Regions from separate parts of the Homo sapiens genome. Here region 1 is linked to region 2. Evidence: fine-mapped expression QTL. A gene starts in region 2. The other region holds a variant in brackets. All regions are shown on one strand. Distances are from middle to middle. Region 1 overlaps LOC105371334 (a long non-coding RNA gene). Region 2 holds the start of CHST4 (carbohydrate sulfotransferase 4).

Region 1 (10,269 bases), 79 kb before region 2:
AAGAAAGGGAAGAGGGTTGTATGCCTTTTTTTTTTTTTTTTTGGAGACAGAGTCTCGCTGCCGCCCAGCCTGGAGTACAATAGTGTGATCTTGGCTCACTGCAACCTTCGCCTCCCAGGTTCAAGCAATTCTCCTGCCTCAGCCTCCAAGTAGCTGGGATTACAGGTGTGTGCCACCAAACCTGACTAATTTTTGTATTTTTAGTAGAGAAGAGGTTTCACGATGTTGGCCAGGCTGATCTCAAACTCCTGACCTCAAATGATCCACTCGCCTTGGCCTCCCAAAGTGCTGGGATTACAGGCGTGAGCCACTGCGCCCGGGCTGGGTTGGCGCGCCCAGGCTGGGTTGGATGCTTTTATACCATCTTGAGGTTACAGGAAGAATAGGGGTTGGACTCTGGCACAACAGACTATGGGAGAGGGAAAGGAGCAGGCCTGGCTAGCGAAGGTAGTCTTGTTATGTAGCTAAAGTTTCACAGGTAACCACTCTCAGAGAGAATAGATATGAATGTTTCTTTCAAACCTTTATTTTTTATTTTTATTTTTTGTAGAGATGGCGGGGGGGGGGTCTCACTATGTTGCCCAGGGTGGTCTCGAACTCATGGGCTCAAGTGATCTGCCAGCCTTGGCCTCCCACACAGCTAACCCCTTTCAAACCTTTAAAGGTATTAGACACTTACTTAACCTTCCCTAGATTTGGACAAAGGAGGGCTTCAGAGAAAGCCTGGCTGCATCAAGGCAGATTTTCTCTATAGATAAAAATCTCTCCCACAAAAGACGGCTTTTCAGCTATTCTTGTATTTCCAGTTCTTCTGAATAGCCAGCTTGAAATGTGTCAAAGAAGTATATTTTGGGGCAAAAGTTTTTCGTTTCCTTTAGTGACTTCCAGGAGAGAGAGTGCTTAAGGAGAGTTTTTAGGAATGAGTAGGACTGTAATCCTTCCTTTTTTTTTTTTTTTTTTTGAGATGGAGTCTTGCTCCATGGTCCAGGCTGGAGTGCAGTGGCAGGATCTCAGCTCACTGCAACCTCTGCCTCCCGGGTTCAAGCAATTCTCCTGCCTCAGCCCCCTGAGTAGCTGAGATTACAGGCATGTGTCACCACACCCAGCTAATTTTTGTATTTTTAGTAGAGATGGGGTTTCACCATGTTGGCCAGGCTGGTCTCGAACTCCTGACCTCAAGTGATCCACCTGCCTCAGCCTCCCAAAGAACTGGGATTACAGGCATGAGCCACCACTCCCGGCCCTGTAATCCTTACGTTTGAACCACAAGGGAAGAAGTAAAGGGAAAAAAGGCAGAAGAGGGAGGCAGGGGTCAGATTATAAGAAGCCTGCAAAGCCAGGCATATGCAGTTAGTCATTTCTCCTACTCTTCTCACCCAAGACACAGTCTGACTCCTTCCTGGCAACCTGAAAATGATCTGTCTAAGATCATTGACATCTTCCAAACACAAATGACACGTTTCAATCTTGAACTTACTCAGCTTCTCTGTAATAAAAATTTTACAGCTACCAGTAGCAGCTGACATTCATTGAGAACCTGACATTCACCGAGTATTTTGAGCATCTGTAGTTCATTGAATATTTATTTGACCATCAGTGACTCATTGTTCTCAGGCAATGAGTCACTGATCGTGTATTCTCTCTGGGTCTGTGGTCTCCAAGCAGGTGCACACAACCTCTCAATGTGGTGAAGGGAAAAAATCCTAGACCTCTATTTAATCTGGAAATATTGTCTTTTTGGGAATCTCTTTTTCTGTATCTGATTTATAATGTAAATGGTATGTTAATACAGCAGTTCATAGATATAATTTATAAATACATGTGTTCATGTTGGGGTTAGGTTTGAGAGTACAGGCTGTATGGAGCCACCAGAGATGGCTTTTAATCAGAGAAGTACCTCAGTCAAATTTGTTATAAAAATAACATTCCAGGCCAGGCACGGTGGCTCATGCCTATAATTCCAGCACTTTGGGAGGCCAACGCGGGCGGACCACAAGGTCAGGGGTTTGAGACCAGCCTGGCCAACATGGTGAAACCCCGTCTCTACTAAAAATATGAAAATTAGCCGGGCGTGTTGGCACGCACCTGTAGTCCCAGCTACTCAGGAGGCTGAGGCAGGAGAATCGCTTGAATCTGGGAGGCAGAGGTTGCAGTGAGCCTAGATGGCGCCATTGCACTCCAGCCTGGGCGACACAGCAAGACTCCGTCTCAAAACAAAAAAACCAAAAAGCATTTCAGGCTAAGCGTGGCGGCTCATGCCTGTAACCGCAACACTTCGGGAGGACAGAGCAGAATGATTGCTGGAGACCAGTCTGGGCTACATAGGCAGACCCCTATCTGTTAAAAAAAATTTTTTAGCCGGGTGTGGTGGTGTGTGTCTGTAGTCTCAGCTACTTGGGAGGCTGAGGTGGGATGATCATTTGAGCCCAGGATGTCGAGGCTGCAGTGAGTCATGATTGCACCACTGCACTCCAGTCTGGGCGACAGAGTGAGACTCTATCTCAAAAAAGAAAAATAAAAAATAAATAACATTCCAAAATATTCTGGAGGGAGAGCAGGTCCCAGCTGAGGCCTAGGGAGGGAGAAAAAGTGAACGTGAAAGATATTAAGGGTGATTACCTTAGCAAGAAGGAGCAGGTGATCAATAGCATTAAATGAGAACAGTGAGTTACTGATGATTCAATAATGAACTACAAATGCTGAAAATATTCTCTACCACACTGCGGATCAGAAATTCAAGAGCGGCTTGACTGTGGGTTTGTGAGTCTCCCTCGACATTACAGCCAAGAGGTTGTCAGGGACTGCAGTCATTTAGGCTTTAATGGGGCTTATTCTGTGGAAGGGCTGTGTATGCAAAGTAACCCCCAAACACAGAAGGAGCGGAGAAACTAAAGAACAAGGCAGGTGAATCCAGTTTGTCAGTAGAGGATGAATTATTGGGGAATTTACAGGTGGAAGTGTGGTCTTGGACGGCAGCAACATAGGTAGATCACTGTACCGTTACTTCCCAGAGGGTTTATACGCCAGAGGGAAGGGGTGTACATGCCTGCCGTATAGACGCAATTAAAGGAATTAAAGGCAGCCCTCCAGAACAGGCAAGAATGCTATGTGTGTCACAGCCTATAATTTGCACGATAACTTCAAGGTTGCTTTGGCTTAAAGGGAGGATTTATAGTGAGTACATATTCTTACATAAAGGGCAGTAAACAACGTTGGAATCAGGAGGCACTCCTGGGGACTGGGGTTAATCAGAAGTCAGCATGGTGGATTAGCATCCAAGATGGAGACACCTGAGTCTTCACAGGGCTTGAGGATCTCCTCCAAAGCTGGCTTGCCCAAGGTGAGCCTCTCCACAGGGCTGCTGTGGTGTCAGCATAATATGGCAGCTGCCTTTTCCCAGAGCAAGAGAGCCAAGAGACCAAGATGGAAACTTAATGCCTTTAAAAAAAAAACGATATTTTTTTTGAGATGGAGTTTTTGCTCTGTCTCCCAGGCTGGAGTGCAGTGGCGCAATCTTGGCTCATTGCAACCTCTGCCTCCCAGGTTCAAGTGATTCTCCTGCCTTAGCCTCCCGAGTACTTGGGATTACAGGTGTGCACCACCATGTCTGGCTAATTTTTGTATAATTAGTAGAGACAGGCTTTTGCCATATTGGCCAGGCTGGTCTCGAACTCCTGGCCTCAAGTGATCCACCCGCCTCGGCCTCCCCAAGTTCTGGGATTATGGGTGTGAGCCACCGTGTCCAGCCTGCAATGCCTTTTTTGAGTTTTACCTTGGAAGCCACATGCTATTAGTTCCACAGTATTCTATTGGTCACACAAGCCAGCCCTGGAATGTGGGAGGAACACAGCAAGGTCTAAATTACAGAAGGCAAGGGTCATTGGGACTGTCTTGGAGACTGGTATCCCAAATGGGAATTATAGCTTTTTTTTTTTTTTGAGACAGAGTTTTGCTTTTGTCGCCCAGGCTGGAGTGCAATGGCACGATCTTGGCTCACTGCAACCTCTGCCTCCCAGGTTCAAGCGATTCTCCTGCCTTAGCCTACCCGGTAGCTGGGATTACAGGCGCCTGCCACCATGCCCAGCTAATTTTTGTATTTTTAATAGAGATGGGTTTTCGCCATGTTGGCCAGGCTGGTCTTGAACTCCTGACCTCAGGTGATCCACCCACCTTGGCCTCCCAAAGTGCTGGGATTACAGGCGTGAGCCACTGCACCCGGCCCTTTTTTTTTTTTTTTTTTTGAGATGAAGTTGATGTTGCACTATGTTGCCCAGGTTGGTCTCAAGCAGTTCTCCCGCCTCAGCCTCCCGAGTAGCTGGGATTACAGGCACATGCCATGGCACCCAGCTTTATCACTCTTCTTCTGATATATAATATCCTTAAGAATTTTCCCTTTGGCTTAGGATTGCCTTGGCGATGCGGGCTCTTTTTTGGTTCCATATGAACTTTCAAGTAGTTTTTTCCAATTCTGTGAAGAAAGTCATTGGTGGCTTTATGGGGATGGCATTGAATCTGTAAATTACCTTGGGCACTATGGCCATTTTCACGATATTGATTCTTCCTA[T/C]CCATGAGCAAGGAATGTTCTTCCATTTGTTTGTATCCTCTTTTATTTCCTTGAGCAGTGGTTTGTAGTTCTCCTTGAAGAGGTCCTTCACATCCCTTGTAAGTTGGATTCCTAGGTATTTTATTCTCTTTGAAGCAATTGTGAATGGGAGTTCACCCATGATTTGGCTCTCTGTTTGTCTGTTGTTGGTGTATAAGAATGCCTGTGATTTTTGTACATTGATTTTGTATCCTGAGACTTTGCTGAAGTTGCTTATCAGCTTAAGGAGATTTTGGGCTGAGACAATGGGGTTTTCTAGATATACAATCATGTCATCTGCAAACAGGGACAATTTGACTTCCTCTTTTCCTAATTGAATACCCTTTATTTCCTTCTCCTGCCTAATTGCCCTGGCCAGAACTTCCAACACTATGTTGAATAGGAGTGGTGAGAGAGGGCATCCCGGTCTTGTGCCAGTTTTCAAAGGGAACGCTTCCAGTTTTTGCCCATTCAGTATGATATTGGCTGTGGGTTTGTCATAGACAGCTCTTATTATTTTGAAATACGTCCCATCAATACCTAATTTATTGAGAGTTTTTAGCATGAAGCATTGTTGAATTTTGTCAAAGGCTTTTTCTGCATCTATTGAGATAATCATGTGGTTTTTGTCTTTGGCTCTGTTTATATGCTGGATTACATTTATTGATTTGCGTATATTGAACCAGCCTTGCACCCCATGGATGAAGCCCACTTGATCATGGTGGATAAGCTTTTTGATGTGCTGCTGGATTCGTTTTGCCAGTATTTTACTGAGGATTTTTGCATCAATGTTCATCAAGGATATTGGTCTAAAATTCTCTTTTTTGGTTGTGTCTCTGTCAGGCTTTGGTATCAGAATGATGCTGGCCTCATAAAATGAGTTAGGGAGGATTCCCTCTTTTTCTATTGATTGGAATAGTTTCAGAAGGAATGGTACCAGTTCCTCCTTGTACCTCTGGTAGAATTCGGCTGTGAATCCATCTGGTCCTGGACTCTTTTTGGTTGGTAAACTATTAATTATTGCCACAATTTCAGCTCCTGTTATTGGTCTATTCAGAGATTCAACTTCTTTCTGGTTTAGTCTTGGGAGAGTGTATGTGTCGAGGAATTTATCCATTTCTTCTAGATTTTCTAGTTTATTTGCGTAGAGGTGTTTGTAGTATTCTCTGATGGTAGTTTGTATTTCTGTGGGATCGGTGGTGATATCCCCTAAGCCAAAAGAACAAAGCTGGAGGCATCACACTACCTGACTTCAAACTATACTACAAGGCTACAGTAACCAAAACAGCATGGTACTGGTACCAAAACAGAGATATAGATCAATGGAACAGAACAGAGCCCTCAGAAATAATGCCACATATCTACAACTATCTGATCTTTGACAAACCTGAGAAAAACAAGCAATGGGGAAAGGATTCCCTATTTAATAAATGGTGCTGGGAAAACTGGCTAGCCATATGTAGAAAGCTGAAACTGGATCCCTTCCTTACACCTTATACAAAGATCAATTCAAGATGGATTAAAGACTTAAACGTTAGACCTAAAACCATAAAAACCCTAGAAGAAAACCTAGGCATTACCATTCAGGACATAGGCATGGGCAAGGACTTCATGTCCAAAACACCAAAAGCAATGGCAACAAAAGACAAAATTGACAAATGGGATCTAATTAAACTAAAGAGCTTCTGCACAGCAAAAGAAACTACCATCAGAGTGAACAGGCAACCTACAAAATGGGAGAAAATTTTCACAACCTACTCATCTGACAAAGGGCTAATATCCAGAATCTACAATGAACTCAAACAAATTTACAAGAAAAAAACAAACAACCCCATCAAAAAGTGGGCGAAGGACATGAACAGACACTTCTCAAAAGAAGACATTTATGCAGCCAAAAAACACATGAAAAAATGCTCATCATCACTGGCCATCAGAGAAATGCAAATCAAAACCACAATGAGATACCATCTCACACCAGTTAGAATGGCAATCATTAAAAAGTCAGGAAACAACAGGTGCTGGAGAGGATGTGGAGAAATAGGAACACTTTTACACTGTTGGTGGGACTGTAAACTAGTTCAACCATTGTGGAAGTCAGTGTGGCGATTCCTCAGGGATCTAGAACTAGAAATACCATTTGACCCAGCCATCCCATTACTGGGTATATACCCAAAGGACTATAAATCATGCTGCTATAAAGACACATGCACACGTATGTTTATTGCGGCATTATTCACAATAGCAAAGACTTGGAACCAACCCAAATGTCCAACAATGATAGACTGGATTAAGAAAATGTGGCACATATACACCATGGAATACTATGCAGCCATAAAAATGATGAGTTCATGTCCTTTGTAGGGACATGGATGAAATTGGAAATCATCATTCTCAGTAAACTATCGCAAGAACAAAAAACCAAACACCACATATTCTCACTCATAGGTGGGAATTGAACAATGAGATCACATGGACACAGGAAGGGGAATATCACACTCTGGGGACTGTGGTGGGGTGGGGGGAGGGGGGAGGGATAGCATTGGGAGATATACATAATGCTAGATGACGAGTTAGTGGGTGCAGCGCACCAGCATGGCACATGTATACATATGTAACTAACCTGCACAATGTGCACATGTACCCTAAAACTTAAAGTATAATAAAAAAAAAAAAAAGAATTTTCCCAGATTGTGACGCCTTTTTCAAAGCATCCCTTGTTTTCAGAAAAGGTCTATAAAATCATGTATATATATTAATTTTATTTATTTATTTTTTTAGACAGAGTCTCAGTCTGTCACCCAGGCTGGAGTGCAATGGTAGAATCTTGGCTCACTGCAACCTCCGCCTCCTGGGTTCAAGTTATTCTCCTGTCTCAGCCTCCTGAGTAGCTGGGATTACAGGTGCACACCACCACGTACAGCTAATTTTTGTATTTTTAGTAGAGACAGAATTTTGCCATGTTGGTCAGGCTGGTCTCAAACTCCTGTCCTCAAGCAATACACCCATCTTGGCTTCCCAAACAGCTGGGATTACAGGAGTGAGCCAGTACTCCTAGCCTTATTAATTTTAAAAGTAATGTAATAATGTAAAAAATAACCCCTCCTCTAACTATGTACTATTTTCATTTTTGCATATCCTATAAAGGCTTTGTCTGCAAAAATATTATTTACATTTTATTTATTATTATTATTATTATTATTTTGAGACAGAGTCTCGCTCTGCCACCCAGGCTGGAGTGCAGTGGCGCAATTTTGGCTCACTGCAAGCTCTGCCTCCCGGGTTCATGCCATTCTCCTGCCTCACCCTCTCCAAGTAGCTGGGACTACAGGTGCCCGCCACCACGCCTGGATACTTTCTTGTATTTTCAGTAGAGACGGGGTTTCTCCATGTTGGTGGGGCTGGTCTCGAACTCCCAACCTCAGGTGATCCTCCCGCCTCGGCCTCCCAAAGTGCTGGGATTACAGGCATGAGCCACCGCGCCTGGCCTTCTATGCACTGATCTTTACTGCATTATCTTACATATTTCTCAAAAACTCTGTGAAATAGGAAGATGATGATGATGATGATTATTATTATTTTGAGAGCAAGAGGGATCTCGCTATTTTGCCAAAGCTTATCTTGAACTCCTGGGCTCAAGCAGTCTTCCTGCCTCAGCTTCCCGAGTAGCTAGGATTGCAGGCACACGCCACCATGCCCAGCTCAAAGTAGGAAAATTATTATCTTCGTTTTGCGGGTGAGGAAGTGGAAGTTAAGTAACTCATCCAAGGTCACAGTTGACTTAAGTGGTAGATACTGGATTCAAAATCTGGGTTTCTCTAATACTGAAGTCCAGGATTTTAAACACTATAGACCAAAGATTTATTTCCACGCCATTTATTTTTTAGGATACATTCTCAAGAGTAAAATTCCTGGACCGAAGAATAGAGATCTTTTTTTTTTTTTGAGACGGAGTCTTGCTCTGTCACCCAGGCTGGAGTGCAGTGGTACCATCTCGGCTCACTGCAAGCTCCACCTCCTGCGTTCACGCCGTTCTCCTGCCTCAGCCTCCTGAGTAGCTGGGACTTCAGGCGCCCGCCACCATGCCCGGCTAATTTTTTGGATTTTTAGTAGAGATGGAGTTTCACCGTGTTAGCCAGGATGGTCTTGATCTCCTGATCTCTTGATCTGCCTGCTTCGGCTTCCCAAAGTGCTGGGATTACAGGCATGAGCCACTGCGCCCGGCTGAGATCTTTTTGTGTCACAATGTGTTTTGCCACTTTGTTTTTCCAAACAAAGAGAACTGTTGTGGCCTACATCTGAAACATAGCCATAGCAGATTGGAGTCCTGTGTAGTTATTTGTCTCTCTTCTGGGCCTCTCCACGGTTTGAGGACTGCACAGTGCCCTCTGAACATCGTTCTGTTTTCTGTCATAGCACCCATGGATGAAGTCCAGGAGGTGCTGGAGAAAACTGCAGTTCTCTAGACCTGAAGAGGTCAGTGATGACACATGGACAGTCCTTGCCAAGGAACGGCACCTGCATCAGCCCATCTGTGGGCCTGGGCGACCTTCTGCACACTGATGTTCGCTGTGTGCCCTATCCTGCTCTCATGCCCCGCCTCTCCCAATCGTACCTTGGTGTTGGTGATTCCCAACGTGGGTTTCACAATCTCCCAAGGAAGGTGGATGAAAGCAAGAAGCAGGCTAGGACCAAGGAGGGTGGAACTCTGGAACTCTGACTCTAAGAGCCAGTTTCCAGTACAGTCTGGACACAAACAAAGAGTGCTGTTCACCACGTTGAGACTTCTCCATTCAGCATCTTTTCCTTCTCTGGGAATGCATGTCACCCCCAGCAGGCTGCAGTCTTTACCTCCACATCCCCTATCCCCCAGAATTTGCTCCAAGTTAACTTTCACACAGAGGAACAAATGATCTATTTCTTTTTTTCTGTTTCTTAATTTTTTTTTTTAATTTAGAGACAGGGTCTTGCTCCGTGGCCGAGGCTGGAGTGCAGCGGTATGATCATAGCTCACTGCAGCCTCAAACTCTCGGGCTCAAGCCATCCTCCCACCTTGGCCTCCCAAGCAGCCAGGACAATCTGCAGGTGCTAATTTTTAATTTTTTTTGTTTATTTATGTTTTTTTAAAAATTTTTATTTATTTATTTATTTTTTTGAGTCAGCCTCACTCAGGCTGGAGTGCAGTGGCGTGATCTCAGCTCACTGCAACCTCTGCCTCCCGGGTTCAAGTGATTCTCCTGCCTCAGCCTCTGGAGTAGCTGGGATTATAGGCACATGCCACCATATCCAACTTATTTTTGTATTTTTTTTGTAGAGACGAGGTTTCACCATGTTGGCCAGGCTGGAGCAAAAAGTTTTTTGTTTTTTATTTTTTTGAGATGGAATCTTGCTCTGTCGCCCAGGCTGGAGTGCAGTGGCGCGATCTCGGCTCGCTGCAAGCTCCGCCTCCCAGGTTCACGCCATTCCTCTTGCCTCAGCCTCCCGAGTAGCTGGGACTCCAGGCACCCGCCACCACACCCGGCTAATTTTTTTGTATTTTTAGTAGAGACGGGGTTTCACCGTGTTAGCCAGGATGGTCTCGATCTCGTGGCCTCGTGATCCACCCGCCTCGGCCTCCCGAAGTGCTGGGATTACAGGCGTGAGTTACTGCACCCAGCCTGGAGTAAAAAGTTTTAAGCAAGGATGAAGGA
Region 2 (10,269 bases):
GGATACTTTAGGATGTGTCTTGGGCAAAACTCATTTCTGAAGACTGTAATGAGCAGCAGAGGCAGATGCTCCTGGGCCCTGGCAGAAGCGAGGTGATGCGAGTCACCAGGGCGCTTCATGGAAGGAGACTCTTCAATAGTGTCCTCGAATCCCACTCTCCCATTGCCAGAATTCCCAGCTGTTTGTGTCTAGGGTGGCCTTTGACATCGACCTTTCTCTTCTGTCTCTCAGCATCTCCCCATGACCCACTGCTGCCAAAAACTACCTTTTTCATTTTTTTTAAATTACTATTTATTCTTTTGGGACAGAGTCTCACTCTGTCAGTGATCTCAGCTCACTGCAACTTCTGCCTCCTGGGTTCAAGTGATTCCTGTGCCTCAGCCTCCCAGGTGGCTGGGATTACAGGTGCCCACCACCGTGCCCAGCTAATTTTTGTGTTTTTAGTAGAGACAGGGTTTCGCCATGTTGGCCAGGCTGGTCTCAAACTCCTAACCTCAAGTGATCCACCTGCCTCGGCCTCCCAAAGTGCTGGGATTACAGGTGTGAGCCACCACGCCTGGCCCAAAATCTTTTTTTTCCTTTTTTAGAGTCGGGGGTCTCACTCTGTTGCCCAGGGTGGAGTACAGTGGCATGATCATAGCTCACTGCAGCCTTGAACTCCTGGGCTCAAGTGATTTTCGATCCTCCTGTCTCAGCCTCCCCAGTAGCTGGGATCACAGGTGTGTCCAATCACACCCAGATAATTTTTTCATTTTTTACTAGAGACTGGCCCTCACTATATTGCCCAGGCTGGTGTCAAACTCCTGACCTCAAGCCACCTTCCAGCCTTGGCCTCCCAAAGTGCTGGGATTACAGGTGTGAGCCACCGCACCTGGCCAAAATATCTTTTTAAAGCATAAGTCTATCAACTTCCTGCTTAAAAATCCTTCAATAAATTTCCAGTGTATATGGGATTAAATAAACATCCCCACACCTCGCACCTGGGGTCCTTCATGGCCTGGTCTTGATTTCCTGTCACTCCCTTCTGTTTTAGTGCCTTAGGCTCCCGACTTTCAGTTCTTCCAAACTTGCCCTGTTATTTAAAAGCCCTGAGATTTTTGCAGGACAGCTACTATTCCTTCAAGAATCTAACCTGCCTTCTCCCTGAAAGGGAGAGCCTGCCTTCTCCCTGAAAGAAGTTCTGTCTCTTTCTCCTGAGACTTTTTTTTTTTAATTTTATTTTTTAGACAGAGTCTTGCTCTGTCGCCCAGGCTGGAGTGCAGTGGCATGATCTCAGCTCACCGCAACCTCTGCCTCCTAGATTCAAGCGATTCTCCTGCCTCAGCCTCCCCAGGAGCTGGGATTACAGCCACGCCCAGCTAATTTTTGTATTTCTAGTGGAAATGGGGATTCGCCATGTTGGTCAGGCTGGTCTCGAACCCCTGACCTCAGGTGATTCTCCCGCCTCGGCCTGCCAAAGTGCTGGGATCACAGGTGTGAAGCACCGCGCCCAGCCCCCTCTTGAGATTAATTTGTTTCCCAGACCTTCTGTTAGCAGCCATCCCTTTTGACAGTAAAAGCCTGTATGGGTGCCTCTCTTTTCTCTGGGCCACTATAGCTTAAGGGAAAGGCTGTATCTTATCTTACTTACACGTACATAACAATTCTACAAATGATCAGGGCTCGGCTCATTAAACACTTGCTAAATAAATGAGTAAGTGAGTAAATAGATGAGTGTGGGCTTGATCTCCTGATCAAGATCACACCGCTGCACTCCAGCCTGGTCAACAGAGCGAAACTTGGTCTCAAAAAAAAAAAAAAAAAAAAAAAAAAAAAAATAGATGAGCATGGGAAGAGGCACAGTAATTGCTAGAAAGCAGAAAACTAAAGGAGCTCCTTCAAGAGAATGAAACATAAGTATCCTTTTCTGAAATGCACACGGACACTCTTCAGCATCAGTGACTAAAATTTAGGTGATTGCATGGAACAGTGAGCACATTACCCATGCCGTCTCAGTTACTTGGACCAAGCTACTAATAAAGTCAGAGGCATGGGTTAGATGCAGTATGGCACAGTAACCCTTGGTCCAAAAAACAGTTACTATACCAAGCATGCATTAATTAAAACCAGGAGGGAAATTATTTTTCTCTTCCTGTATGAAAATTAGTTTTAGAAAACATTTAAAAAATAAAAGCCTCATTGCTGGGTGATAGGCTACCTTGCTTGAATCAGCTCAGTTACTAGGCTAACAAAGCAAAAGCAAAAAAAAAAAAACAAAAAACAAAAACAAAACAAAAAACCCAAACTCAGCACATTCCATCATCACCACCCCAAAAAATTAATTTAAAAAAATGTTGCCCCAACGATGGGTGAACGGTATCATCTTAAAACACAAAGGACAGCCATTTCTGAGGAGTCAAGAGAACCTTAGGAACTTGAAAACGCCACCAAAGGGTGGTGAGAAGGGAGAATCTATGTTTGGCACAGGAACCACGAAGGTGCCAGATGGGTGACCTCAAGCAGCAGCTGATTAGAGTGGGCTGAATTATAGATGTCCCCCAAATCGGTACCATGTAGCCTCGTAGAGACAAAATGGGAAATTCTGAGGGGGAAAAAAACCAGATAGATACTAATTTAAGAAGTCTGGGTTCCAGCCACTGGATGCATTCCTAACTTACACTTCCCATGAGATTATGCCCCTTACAAGTAGAAATTAGATACAGCAGAAGATACCTTGAGCAAAGAGAGAGAGAATGGGGTTGGATTGGGGAAACTGGCATCCTCACAAGCAGCCTGAAGACCTGGAAAACCTCTGAAGCTAGGCACCTGGGTAAAGGGTGTCCATATAACAAACTCTTCCTAGACAGTGTCAGGAGGATTGGACCTGGGTCCCGCCAGGGCTGTGTCACTAGTGCCAAGGACAGTGCATGGCACATAGTAGGTGCTCAAGGAACATCTTTCAACAAATGACAAGTGAACATATATTTGTACAGTGTTTTTTTTTTTACTATATGAGACCCAGAAAGGAAGATTGAGCAAGATATTATAAACCAAAAATAAAATTCTAAGGCCCCCCAACCATCTGAAAGGACTTCCTCCTCAGCCAGGACTCTTTTTTTTTTTTTTTTTTTTGAAATGAAGTCTTGCTCTGTTGTCCAGGCTGGAGTGCAGTGGCACGATCTCAGCTCACTGCAACCTCGACTCCTCAGGTTCAAGCGCTTCTCCTGCCTCAGCCTCCCGAGTGACCTGGCTAATTTTTTGTATTTTTAGTACAGACATGGTTTTGCCATGTTGGCCAGGCAGGTCTCGAACTCCTGACCTCAAGTGACCTCAGTCTCCTAATAGTGCTGTGATTACACCCATGAGCCACTGTGCCCAGCCAGGGGTCTTTTTAAAATTTAACCTGAGAGACTGTTTCAGGCCATGACAAGAAGTGGGGATCTAACATGCCTCATCATACCTCTCCAGCATTAACACCAACACAGACCTTAAGTCTGATAAGAAACATTTTACAACCTATTCTCTCTGAAGCCTGCTATCTGAAGGCTTCCTCTCAGTTGCAGTGAGCCGAGATCGCACCACTGCACTCCAGCCTGGGCGACAGACCCGTACTTTTTTCTTTTCTTTTTTCTTTTTTGAGATGGAGTTTTGCTCTTGTTGCCCAGGCTAGAGTGCAATGGCAGGATCTCGGCTCACTGCAGCCTCCCGGTTTCAAGCGATTCTCCTGCCTCAGCCTCCTGAGTAGCTGGGATTACAGGTGCCTGCCACCATGCCCAGCTAATTTTTTTGGTATTTTTAGTACAGACAGGGTTTCGCCATGTTGGCCGGGCTGGTCTTGAACTCCTGGCCTCAGGTGATCCACCTGCCTCAGCTTCCCAAAGTGCTGGGATTACAGGCGCGAGCCATCGCGCCTGGCTAGATGTATTTCTTAAATGTATTTGATTGAAGTCTCATGTCTCCCTAAAGTGTATAAAACCAAGCTGCACCCCGACCACCTTAGACACATGTTCTCAGGACCTCCTGAGGGCTGTGTCACCGGCCATGGTCACTCATATTTGGCTCAGAATAAATCTCTTCAAATATGTCACAGAGTCTGACTCTTTTCATCGACAATATTACATTTATTTTACACATAGAAAAGTATTTCAATTCCAATTAGAAGTTTCATACTTGTCCAAGGCCATGCAAGATAGACGTATCTTCTACCATAGCTGATATGTTGGCACCATAACTTAATCATATTGCACATGTGCGTGGTGTTCCACATTTTTAAAGCCCTTTTAGCTGCAATTATGATACTGATCGGTTAGATATTTTAGACAGTGATGAGACATTTCTTCATTTTTCAGAATAAATAAACTAAACTTTAATTGACTGGCTCATCCGGTATAAATAGCCTTTTCTGGATCAGAACCCAGGTTTTGGGGATCCCAGGGCTGAGAATTTTCAATGATCACACTGTCCCTCTCCTGAGCTAGAGAAAACCTACAGCTCCTTGCACCTCCTGTCTTCCACTCCCCAGCAGAAAACAGAGGAGAAGCTGCAGGAAGTACAGAAATTTGAGCTCCAAAGCCAGGATCTGAACGAGTCAGTTGGCACCAGGGGACCATCTACAAAATATACATCAGAACAGCCTGATCTGCTCTCTGGGCTCTTTTGGACCCATTTAGGGATAGAGCTAGTGGGGCTTGGGGGCTGCTGGTAAGCAGCTTGTGTTTTATTTTACCCAGAAAATTCCCCAGGTGATCTGATTTATCCCCTCTGCGCAAACCGCCTTCGCCACTGTAATCTCTAGCTTAGCTGCCAGAGGTTATCTGATACTCTTGCTCCAGCAGCTCTGGGTAATGGCTCTGCATTGGAGTCGTACACAGAAATTCTCTTCTTACCTTGTGGCTTGGGCTTCCCTGCTGCTTTTGAGAGGCTCACTGCTAGCCGGGCCATGCGCTTTTCTCCTCTGACTCACCAACTCCCCTCTTGGCTTCCTCCTCCTACTTGCTTTTGCATAACCGTCCCTACTCAGAGCACATTTCACTGTCCCTCCCTTCTGCCAAAAACAAAAAAGGACCCACCTTGCAAGACGGGCTTGAGAAAGCACTCGCTCCCAGGAAGCTGTGAAAGTAACAGCTTTAACACTGCTGAGACTCAAGGGGTGGGGAGACTGCTTGAGGTGGGCTGGGAGAAGCAAATGAGGAAGCATTTTCCCCCAGACTGGAGGCATCCTGGCATGTTGACTACTGAAAGGCAACTGTGAAGGTCAACTCCCTATGGGCAGAGTGGGGAGGTGGGGAAAAAGAGAAAGAGAGAGAGAGAGACCCAGGGAGCTAGTAGATGAGGCTGATAGGGAAATTTCATGACACTTACAAGCCGAAAGGCTACAAAATCTCAAACCTGATTTTTAGACCTTGTTCTTATCTCCAAGGAGAAAATGTGAAAGTTATTTCTTGCATTACACCTGCCTGCTCACTCCACCCTGGGTCTAGGGAGGTAACATTTCTCAGCCTCTGTGTTGTATTCAATATCTTCACCCTTGCTACAAGAGGTAATAAATATTTTCTGGGAGGACATAGATGTACTGGCTTGGTGGTACAGGAGAAAAAAAAGTCCCCTTTAAGAAAAAAAGAAACAAATTATCATTAAAGATTACAACCTCTCCCTTGCTGTGTGCCCTTGGGCAAATCACTTACCTACTCCGTGCTACTTTACACGGTTGTCATGAGTCTGAAACAATGGATGCCCGTGAATAAACGTAAATTGTGGTGGAGAATGGAAGCCTCAGACTTTCAAGTCCAAGATCTTGCCGGGCAAGTCATACCACCTCTTTGAGCCCTAGAATATCATCGGTGTTAAATAAGGGTAACAATATCTATTTTACAGTATTGTTGTGAATGTTAGGATTAATGCGTATGAAGCTCCTAACACAATAATATGACAATATAAGAGTTAAAAAGTGGTTGAATAATAATACCTTCCCACCGCCACCCACCCCCGCAACTCAGCTGCCACTTCCTTTTCCAGACCTTGGAAGAGAGAGAGAGCAGGCAGGGAGTTGTGTGAGCTTTGGGATGATCTTTGCCGATTTCCATCAGCTAAGTCCGCTAAGCACAAATGACAAGAACCTGTGGTGCTTGCCTTGACTTGATTTCAATTGTGTGGCTCTTCCTCCCTTCCTGTTTCTCTCTGGCAGAGAGAAGAGAAATTTCTCTTCCTCCAGTGAAGGACTTTGGGCAGAGGTGTAACTGGAAGCACTAGAACTGGGCAGTCGGTAGTTTTGCTTTTATGCACAAAGAGATGATTCAGGTGCTGGCACGACACAGCGAGATGGCACAAGGCTTCATCATGCTACTCAGAATAGTATGTAATAAATGAACTGTTTATTTCTGTAATTTTCCCATTTAATATTTTCAAATCGTGGTTGATGATGAGTAGTTAAAACTGGGAAACAAAACCGTGGATAAAGAGGGGACTCCTGTAGTTTTATTCCAGCCCTTTCTAACATTCTTTTCGTGTTTTTCCAGCGCCTTCCCAAATATAGTGAGGTCACTCAAATACACCATAACCCCAAGTAATTCAGATCACCTGCCATCTTTCCCGTGCTAGGAATTCATGCTGGCAGAATGCCAAGCAGCTGAAGAAAGGCATCCTCTGGTCACTAGTATACGGTGGTGACCAGCATGTTCAGATACTGGACTTCCAAGGGTCTACCACATTCCACAGCACTGGGAAGAAATTTGAATGCTGGTGTCTGATATCCAGGCCTTCTTGTGGAAGTCCTGCAGCCCACGTCTCTAAGGCAGCACTGTCCAATAACAGTCTCTGTGATGATGGAAATGTTCCATATCTGCACTATACAGTAGCCACTGTCCACCTGAAACGTGCTAGTGCAACCATATTGGATCGTGCAGTCAAGTAAGAGATCTAATCTTTTTCTTTTTGAGTCTCCAAAATCTGATAACAGATATAGACCTCTGTAGAAAAATGTACAATTGCTCATATACAAACACAAAATCATGTGCAATGCCAAGGAATCCCAAGTTTAAAATCCGTACAAAAGGCTGTGTGTACTTGAAGTGATTTAGACAATTGTCTCCTGGGGACCACTATTCAGCGGAGTCGCTGATCTCATCTTTGCCCTTGGAAGTTTACCATCTTTACTGTCTGGGGACCCACCTGAGTGGTGAAGAGACCTGGGGTCAGCTACTGACCTAGACTCTGATTTTCTCAGGGGTCAAAAGGATCTTTCTGCTGGTTATACTACCTACTCCTGCTACCTTACCCTGACCATCACTCCAAATGAGATTGCAGTTTCTTCACTTCCACACTTACCTACATATCTTTTCTGTCCCTAGTGACACTGAAAGGACAGTGATGCTTCCTTGAGTTTCTTTTCTTATGGGGGCTCTAGCATTCCTCATTTTTTTACGCTAAGCATCAGCCTGCAATGCAGATGTCCAGGCCTGAAACTGTTGAGGAACATGTCACTCCCTACATTGGTCACCAGCCCTGTTTTGCTTACCAAAGCCAGTGTCTGGCCTGAGTAGGTCACTGGCTAAGTGGCTGAGTTTAGAGAATAGATTCTGGAGGGCTTTGTAGTTTGGCTAAGTTTCTGAAGTCTATAGAGACTGGATCTTAGCATCACAGGGAGCCAGCGCCTTCGGAAGAAGTGTCTGCAAGCCAGGAAGGAAATCTTGGTTGCTGTAAATCCTATTATCAAATGGGTAATTGCTTTCAGTAGAACTTGCTTCCTTGAGCTGGGCCCTGGTGGTGGACATCTGTGTAGGGAATCCCCCAGCAATACGATGTCCCTTATCTGTGTTAGAAATATTTGTTTCAACAGTGGGAGAATAAGTTGGACTAGAATAGATTAGGGAAAAAACGAACACAGTTTTAAGTTTTTCACTGGTTCTTGCTTTTTTGTTGCTCCCTTGAAGGGCAGAGGGGATGGGAAAATAGGAAATAATGAGCCAGGAGCTCCTAGTAAAACTCAGGCATCCCTTATATGTCTTTGATGGTTCAGGAACATAACATTGCTGCATAATTGTGGCTTTATCTGGAATCAGGCTCCTGAAATTCTACCTCTGGTCTTCCAAAAACTGTCAGAGACTGCTTCAGGTGACCCGTGATGATTTAGTCAGGGAGTTTCTGGGGATGAAATCTGGGGAGACTATCAGTGTGTCTTCCGGTGGACTGTCACCTCATGTATCACATTGATCACCAATGTCTGTCTAAAGGTAAAATAACCTTAAATAGCTGTCAAATTTGCCCTCCTTTATATGTCAACAGCCCCTGTCTTCAGTCTGCCTTTCAATTTTTTTTTTGCTTGAATTTCTGCCAACAGTCTCTCACTTTTTCCCATATCCCCAATCTTATGCCCTCCAGCCTTCCCACTCTATGCTGCAGCTAGAATGATCTTTCCTAGGATGGATCTGATCCCCAGCATTTCCCTGATGAAAATGCTACAAAAGAGCTCATTAGAGACACAGTACAAATTCCTCGAGATGCTTAGTTAGGCACCTTTTAAGAGTTGGTGTCTCTCGGCCAGGTGTGGTGGCTCACGCCTGTAATCCCAGCACTTTGGGAGGCCAAGGTGGGTGAATCGCCAGAGGTCAGGAGTTCGAGACCAGCCTGGCCAACATGGCGAAACCGTGTCTCTACTAAAAATACAAAAATCCACCAGGTGTGGTGGCATAGACCTGTAATCCCAGCTACTCGAGAGGCCGAGGCAGGAGAATAGCTTGAACTCAGGGAGTGGAGGTTGCAGGTAGGTGGGTAGATGATGTGCTGGGAATTTGTGGAAACTCCCTTCTTATTGCTTTTATTTTCCTAGTGAGTGAGGGGATAAGGTTGTCAGCTGAGTCTGAGGATGGGGAAGGAGTTAATGGAAGCCTGAAGAGAGAGGAAGATATGGAGTGGCCACCTGTGAGGATACGTTAGTGACTATGCTAGGGTAATGAGGTAAGATAGATGAGTGAAGCCGAAGGTGAGTGGTCATAAACTTAAAATGAAAGCAGATAGCAGAGGTGTGTAGTTTTTCCAGCCCTGTTCGGCTACTACTACTTGTGTGGGGATAAGTGGAGAGTTAGATTTAAGTAAGACCTCTGCTTTTCTGGAAGAGTACAATGAAGTATTAGAGAGGCAAGGGAGCCTAGGGGATATTCAAAGGTGTAATTATGATAATGAACCATGGAATCTAAGCTGGTTAAGAGGAGAAAGAAGGACAGAAAGATTATAGCTGAACTAAGTTGGAGGGCAAGTTTTTTGGGAGTGAGGAGGTCAAGGATTTGAGACATCAGGGCTTTGAAAGTATCATCTCTAAGGATATTGAGTTCATGTAGAATTGTCCCAGGAGTAGAGTTGGAGAGTGGCAGGGGTCATATGACTGTAATGAGGGCCATATAGTCTGGTTAATATCAGAGTGAAAGCTGGAAATGTTTAGGAAGGAGGGAGCCAGAATAATCTGGAAGCAGCAATGAGGAACAAGAAAACTTATTCCATTGTGGAGTGTAAGAAACAGCCACCACTTGAGAGGACTGCAGAGAAAGCAGTGTCTTCAAGGGAGACCTAGTTTCCTTTAGAGCAAGAAAGTGAAGAGGAAATTAAGACACTTCGAGAAAAGATGGATTTTGTGGATCCCAACAAGGGTGTCGGGATGGGGAGGGTGGGAAATGGGGTCAGAAAATGAGACATTTGGAGCCATTTGGGATGAAACACAAGGGATAAGGAACAACTGAGGATCCTGGGCTACTTGTGTGACTGGCATAAACCAGGATAAAGGAAATAATAACAGATAATGATGGCCTCCAGGAAGATAGTGGTGGCCAAACTGAAAACTTGGGGAAGGGCAGTGTGAAGTACCTGCTGGAAGAGGCTGGGGTGCTCTCTCTTTACTCTTGGCAATGGTGACGTGGAGGCCAGGGTAGGGGTGTTGTTGAAACTCTAGACATTGAGAAACTGCATCACCACTTCTCCAAACAATGCAAAGCATCTGGAGTCAGCTTGGTTGAAGGAACAAGATTTTTGGGCTGGGCATGGTGGCTTATGCCTGTAATCCCGGCACTTTGGGAGGCCAAGGCGGGCGGATCACCTGAGGTCGGGAGTTCGAGACCAGCCTGACCAACATGGAGAAACTCCATCTCTACTAAAAATACAAAATTAGCTGGGTGTGGTGGCTCATGCCTGTAATCCCAGCCACTCGGGAGGCTGGGGCAGGAGAATCGCTTGAACCTGGGAGGCGGAGGCTGTGGTGAGCTGAGGTCATGCCATTGCACTCCAGCCTGGGCAACAAGAGTGAAA

Evidence for each region. PIP is the estimated chance that this variant, and not a neighbour inherited with it, causes the effect.
Region 1: its variant is the best candidate, but not a certain one, in a credible set for the expression of CHST4 in adrenal gland (GTEx, PIP 0.53).

Annotation. Positions count from the first base shown.
Region 1 is chr16:71,599,811-71,610,079 of GRCh38, reverse strand. The region is part of intron 2 of LOC105371334 (a long non-coding RNA gene); the gene reads left to right. Among named protein-coding and RNA genes, the nearest start is that of MARVELD3, 21 kb to the left of the region's middle. RefSeq lists a silencer at 2,057-2,106. The variant T/C (reference allele first, on the strand shown) is at 4,565.
Region 2 is chr16:71,521,092-71,531,360 of GRCh38, reverse strand. It overlaps CHST4 (carbohydrate sulfotransferase 4), which reads right to left and starts at 4,935. Exons shown (of 2, transcript NM_001166395.2): 1 at 4,866-4,935. RefSeq lists an enhancer at 4,692-5,302.